Homo sapiens: one gene and its partner. The protein of the gene in region 1 purifies or fractionates together with the protein of each later gene. This does not show direct contact. Each region holds a gene or a part of one and is shown in the gene's direction. Other genes may lie near its edges.

Region 1 (3,500 bases):
CTATCTCTTTGTTTTGACAACACCCTAGTAGTTAGGCAGGGAGATGGGTTCATATCCATCTTACAGATGAGGAAGCTGAGCATACAGCATTTAAGTGACTGTCGAAGGTCACTGCTGAAGCGAGTCAGCGAAGGCGCCAGCACTCAGCCTGGGACTCCCTGGCCACTCAGTCCTTGCTTTCTTCTGCACAACTGTCTCCAGTGCCTTTTGTATTCCTGTCACCCGGCTAGACAAGGGTGAATGGGCCACTGTTCTTGCCCTCAAGGGGTCTAAAGTCCAGGAGAGAATCAGGCTCTTTAACAACTGAGTGTGCCAGAGTTGTTCCGCCCCATGGTGCCACCTTGGGCCCAGCTCAGCTCCTTCCTTGCAGTGTCCCAGAGAGTTCTTCTTCTCTCTACCTCAGTGGAGGGCATCAGAGCCATTTTCATTCAGGACCCTGGTCTGATGACATTCCCAGGAGTGACTGGTCCTTACAGAGCCTCTGCCGGGTCCTGGGCAGTGGTGAGTTGGGAGCCAGCTCACACCTACACATAAGAGCTGATTGCTAAATTTTAGGAATTTTATGAGCCGGTTGTTAAACACAACCATTATAAAAAATTCTGAGGCCAGGAGCGATGGCTCATGCGTGTAATCCCAGCACTTTGGGAGGCCAAGGCAGGCAGATCCCCTGAGGTCGGGAGTTCGAGACTAGCCTGGCCAACATGGTGAAACCCCATCTCTACTAAAAATACAAAAATTAGCTGGGTGTGGTGGCCCATGCCTGTAATCCCAGCTACTCGGGAGTCTGAGGCAGGAGAATTGCTGGAACCCAGGAGGCGGAGGTTGCAGTGAGCCGAGGTTGTGCCATTGTACTCCAGCCTGGGGGACAAGAGTAAAACTCCGTCTCAAAAAAAAAAATTTTTTTTGAGTGTATACATTCATCATTAAGTAAATTATATATATATAGTTTGTTTGTTTGTTTGTTTTTTGAGATGGAGTCTCACTCTTTTGCCCAGGCTGGAGTGAAATGGTACAATCTTAGCTCACTGCAACCACCGCCCCCTGGTTTCAAGTGATTCTCCTGCCTCAGCCCCCTCAGTAGCTGGAATTACAGGTGCCTGCCACCACGCCCAGCTAATTTTTGTATTTTTAGTAGAGACGGGGTTTTACCATGTTGGCCAGGCTGGTCTCAAACTCCTGACCTCAGGTGATCCACCTGCCTCAGCCTCCCAAAGTGCTGGGATTACAGGCATGAGCCACCGCGCCTGGCTGCTATTATATATTTTTGAGATGGAGTTTCACTCTTGTTGCTCAGGCTGGAATGCAGTGGCGTGATCTCTGCTCACTGCAACCTCCACCTCCTGGGTTCAAGTGATTCTCCTGCCTCAGCCTCTGGGATTACAGTAGCTGGGATTACAGGTGCCTGCCACCACACCTGGCTAATTTTTTGTATTTTAGTAGAGATGGGGTTTCACTATGTTGGCCAGGCTGGTCTTGAACTGCTGACCTCAGGTGGTCCACCTGCCTCAGCCTCTCAAAGTGCTGGAATTACAATTATGAGCCACTGTGACTGGCCATAAATTTTATACATATATATGTGTGTATATATATATATAATAATTTTTTTTTTGAGATGGAGTTTTGGCTCTTGTTGCTCAGGCTGGAGTGCAATGGCATGATCTCGGCTCACTACAACCTCTGCCTCCCACGCACGTTCAAGCGATTCTCATGCCTCAGCCTCCCGAGTAGCTGGGACTACAGGCGTGCACCACTACTCCCGGCTAATTTTTGTATTTTTAGTAGAGACGGGGTTTCACCATGTGGGCCAGGCTGGTCTCAAACTCCTGACCTCAGGTGATCTGCCCACCTCAGCCTCCCAAAGTGCTGGGATTACAGGCGTGAGCCACCATGCCCAGCCTGTAAATTATATTTTATAAAGTAATAAATACTCAATTTTTTTCCTAATTATTTTATTCTATTATTACCTGTGCTTTTGTGGTTATTTGCTGCTTTGTGTGTGTGTGCGTTGGGGAGTGTATTAGTTCTTTTTCATACTGCTATTTTCATACTGCTATGAAGAAATACCTGAGACTAGGTAATTTGTAAAGAAAAAGAGATTTAATGGACTCACAGTTCCACATGGCTGGGGAGGTCTCACAATCATGGTAGAAGGCGAAGGAGGAGCAAAGGCACATTTTACATGGTGGCAGGCGAGAGAGCCTGTGTAAGGGAACTGTCCTTTATAAAACCTTCAGGTCTTGGGAGACTTATTCACTATCATGAGAACAGCATGGGGAAAACCTGCCCCTGTGATTCAATTACCTCCCACCACGTCCCTCCCATGACATGCAGGGATTATGGGAGCTACAATTCAAGATGAGATTTGGGTGGGGACGCAGCCAAACCATATCAAGGGGTGTGAGTGTGGGTGTGGGTGTGTGTGTAATGTACGTAGTGGTGTGCTACTGCATATCTCAACTCCATTCAGTGATGTCACATTGGCAGCTTGAAATTGGCCAGAGTGAGAGTATTTATATCACAGAAATTGGCAAACACTGCAAATCAGAATCTTTTCCCCTGAAGAGCCTGTTTACCAGCACACCACTGGGAATCCAGCAATGAGCAACTCAGTCCCTCCCTTTGAACTTACATTTTGGTGTGATGGCGCTCCAGGACTGATCTTAGTGTCCTCATTGCTGAGGGGCAGCTGCTGGGCAGGGCCTGCTTTGGTGATAGAGGTTGTAAATTGCCCTCAAATCACAGGAGCTCTCCATTCCAGCAAGTGAGTTGTTACCATGCACCAGGAAGAGAGGAAATGGGACAAGGAGGAAATTCAGTTAATTGAGAGCTGACTTTGCCATTGAGTAACCCTATTCAGGATGACTCAGGCATCTGGGAGGAAAAGCAGCAGTGGTGTCTGAGGACAGACCGTGGACAAATTAAGTAGCTTGGGGCTTGTGGAGTTGTGATGTCCAGGACATGGGTGGCTAGAGCTGACATAGGCAACAGTGGGCATGACCTGTCCATATGGATTCAGGACCTGCATGAGAGAGTAGAGGCAGACGGTTGCTCTTGTACATCCTGTGATCTCTGGTTGGAAGATGGACATGTGCACATGTTACATACAGTGGAGGGATGTGCGGAGTGTAGCAGGGGAATGGGGTAGGGAGAGGGGAACAATTCATGCCTCTGAACCTTTGCACATGCTGCTCCTTCTACCCAGGGGAGTTAATGTGTGTTTTCTCCACCCAGAAGGAATGGCATGTGCAAAGGCTCAGAGGCATGAATTATTGAGAGTTCAGTCTGGCTCTGGTGTCAGGTGAATCAAAAGTCTGCAGGGCTTGAAACAGAGTAGGGGAAGCATTGAACCTTCCTCAAGTCAGGAGGCACAGCATCATCTGGGTGCCAGCAAAGGAAATCTGACAAACCTCACCTGTCAGGGGCCTTGTGCTGTGTGGATCACCCTGCTTCCCTAAAAATCTTTGAGGTTTCTTGGTAGTTTCCTGCTGTCCCTGAAGCTT
Region 2 (3,500 bases), about 160 Mb from region 1:
CCACGCCCAGCTAATTTTTGTATTTTTAGTAGAGATGGGGTTTCACCATGTTGGCCAGGCTGCTCTCAAACTCCTGACCTCAGGCGATCCGCCTGCCATGGCCTCCCAAAGTGCTGGGATTACAGGCGTGAGCCACTGCGCCTGGCCTCTTGTTTGTCATCTTAAAGATGCTGTCCTATTGTCTTCTGGCTTGCATTCTTGCTGATGGGAAATTGGCGATCTTTCTCTTTATGTAATGTGTCTTTGTTTCTTTGGCATTTCTACAGATTTTCTCTGTTTCTTGTCTTCAGCAGTGTAACTGTGGTGTGCCTTGATGTGGTGTTGTGCTTCTTTCTGCCAGAAATTGTTAAGCTTCTTAGATTTGTGGGTTTATAGTTTACAAATTTGAAACATTTTAGTCTTAACGTTTTCATATATTTTTTTCTCTTCCTTCTTTGGGACTCCAATTATACATTTATTAGGTTGCATATTGCCCAATAGGTCACTGAGATGCTAATCTCTTTTTCCTCTCATGCTTTTTTCCTGTCTGCTTCAGTTGTAATTTTGGAGGTGTTACCAAATTTTTTGATGTTTTATTCCTCACTTGTCTCATCTGTTGTTATGTCCATCTCCTTACCTGCTTTGTGGTCCAGAAATTGCCTCTCAGTAGAAAACCAGGGTGATTATAGGACTCACTTCATTTGTTTCTTTTCTCTCAAAGATCACAGTCCTGTACTGCCTGTGGTCCAGTGGTATCTTACATATTTTTTTCAGTTTTCCAGTTGTATATGGTAGGAAAACAAATTTAGTCTGTTTACTCTGTTATGGCCAAAAATGGAAGTTTTTATATATATATATATATATATATATTCACGTATCTTATATTTAAATACATTGTATATACTTATACCTATACTAAAATTAATTTACATTTAAAATCAGTTACATCTATCTCTATGAATAAATCCACCAGTTGCTGAGTGAATAACTGTTCATTTCTCAACTTGTCAGGATTTTATTTTATTATATTTTATATATTTATTTATTTATTTATTTTTGAGATGGAGTTTTGCTCTTGTTGGCCAGGCTGTAGTGCAGTGGCATGATCTTGGCTCACCATAGCCTCCACCTCCCGGGTTCAGGCGATTCTCCTGTCTCAGCCTCCCAAGTAGCTGGGATTACAGGCATGTGCCACCACGCCTGGCTAATTTTTTTTGTATTTTTAGTAGAGATGGGGTTTCTCCATGTTGGTCAGGCTGGTCTCAAACTCCCGACCTCAGGTGATCCGCCTGCCTTGGCCTCCCAAAGTGCTGGGATTACAGGTGTGACCCACAGCGCCATCCAGATTTTTAATGTATTGTCTATAATGACCCTTTTTAAGCAAGTCAATAAAGATAAAACTATTTTAGTAGATGCAGGTTTTCTTCACTAGCCTACGTGTGCTACTAAAAATGTTTTGGTATAAGTTAGTGTAGTATCACTGACTTAAGCAAGTTGGTGCATGTTTATATGTCTTCTGTTTTTATAAAAGACTTGCTAATTTTTCTGTTGTCTTTTCTTAGTCTCTTCATAGTCAGAAAAAAATATTGGGTATTTTATTAGCTTAGCCTTGAGGAGAGTTCTGCAGTAAAACTGCCGGTTTCCAAAAAAGAGGGAGAAAATAATAAGAATTACTGACTCACACTTTTATTTTATTTAGCAAGTAAAAAATAACCTGTTGAGCTAGAACTTATTTATAGTAGGCCCTAGCAGACCACAGCTACAACTAGGAATTACCAGTCATCCAAAATACAATCAAGAACCATTAAAAACTTACATTAATAACCTTGTACGTACCACTTCCACATCTCTATGCTAGAAGTAAAATATCTGGTCTTATTTTTCTGTTGCATGCAAAAAAAAAATAATTTATCTTAAGCCAATATCTAGCTATCTGATAGTTTAATTCTAAATAACTTTTTTTGTAATCATACTACCTTTGGGGAGAGAGGATGTACTGAGATATGAAGCCATTATTTTTCTTTCATTAAATTTCAGTCCTAAAAGACCATTCAAACTGGCATTCAATTCGTATGTTGACTTTTTTTTTTTTTAACACATAAAGTATTTATCTGTTTCTGCAGGAAATAGTGTTAAGAGTTAACCCTTGGATAGCATCTAATATGACATCATATATTAATGCCATAGTAATCCTGAGGTTACAGTAAGACAGTGTTTATTCATGTTGGATAGTTATCAGATGTCCTTCTTGGGTTTAGAGTGGTAATTGTACATATTTTAAACTCCTCTTGTGTGGTAATCCAACTAGATTATCTTATTTATATTGGGGCTAATTTTTCATACTGTAAGATAATATACTACAATTTTCCTAGTTTTGCTCCCATCAGAAGTCAGAAGTTTCAATTATGTAATTTATAATCCCTGTAACTGCCAGAAGTAGACTCCCTGCTTATCCCCAAGTGAATCCTCATCTTCACCAGGTCTCTGCATTCCTTCTCTATATTAAAAGGTGACTAGACCCAAAATGGCAGAAGGAGATGGAGCTTTCGGCTTTAAATTTTTCATTGTCCTGTCATTATTTGTTCTCATAGCAAAGGGAGCAGTTCATGATGGCTGCAGCATTTAGTGGTGGTGGCTCTTGGCAGTAGCTTTCTTGCAGACCAGAGTCTGTCCCCTCCTTGAATGGCAACTAGGTTGATCAGTGAGATTTTCAACTGCTTTTCTGGATGATGTTTACAGGAGAATTATTTGTGGGTCACCAGTGGCAGTTCTGATACCATACAACTTGTTTAAAATTCCTGCTAGAAAGAAATCCATATTGCACCACACAGTGCCTCTTTCTGCTGTTTTCTGAGGCCAGCATAGAAATGCTGTCTCTTAACCAACTCAGGGTAAGTTATTATATTCCTAAAGGACATCCAGAACCTACTCCAACCACTTTCTACATTCAGGTCACTAAAAGAGTAAATAAATCCCAAATTCATCTTCCTTTCCCCTCACCCCAGCCCCCCACCCCGAATATGGAAGTGTTGATTCTGTATACCTCAAGTCCCAGAAATAGCCCATAATATTCCAAAGTTAATTCTAATAGTGAGTATTGTATTACCCATGTTCATTTTTTTTTTTTTTTTTTTTTTTTGAGACGGAGCCTTGCTGGAGTCTCTCCAGCCAGGCTGGAGTGCAGTGGTGCAATCTTTGCTCACTGCAACCTGTGCCTCCCAGGTTCAAGCACTTCCCCTGCCTCAGCCTCCTGCCTAGCTGGGACTACGGGCACACGCCACCACGCCAAGCTAATTTTTTGTATTTTAGTAGAGACAGGATTACACCATATTAGCCAGGATGGTCTCGATCTTCTGACCTCATGATCTGCCCACCTCTGCCTCCCAAAGTGCTGGGATTACAGGTGTGAGCCACTGCGCCCAGCCCCCATGTTACTATTTTTAAGAACATTTGCTAATTTAAGGAAAATCCTCAGCTAGGAAAAGATCAACAATTCCCATGCCCACATGTCTTTATTTCTT

What was found.
Region 2: the proteins of ARHGEF10L (region 1) and COP1 purify together in Homo sapiens (co-immunoprecipitation; 2 studies listed by BioGRID and IntAct, with this or other methods). This does not show direct contact.

What each region holds. Positions count from the first base shown.
Region 1 is NC_000001.11:17,542,698-17,546,197, forward strand, and holds part of ARHGEF10L (rho guanine nucleotide exchange factor 10-like protein), read left to right. Parts: intron 1-3,500.
Region 2 is NC_000001.11:175,948,787-175,952,286, reverse strand, and holds part of COP1 (E3 ubiquitin-protein ligase COP1), read left to right. Parts: intron 1-3,500. UniProt on the Homo sapiens protein: E3 ubiquitin-protein ligase that mediates ubiquitination and subsequent proteasomal degradation of target proteins.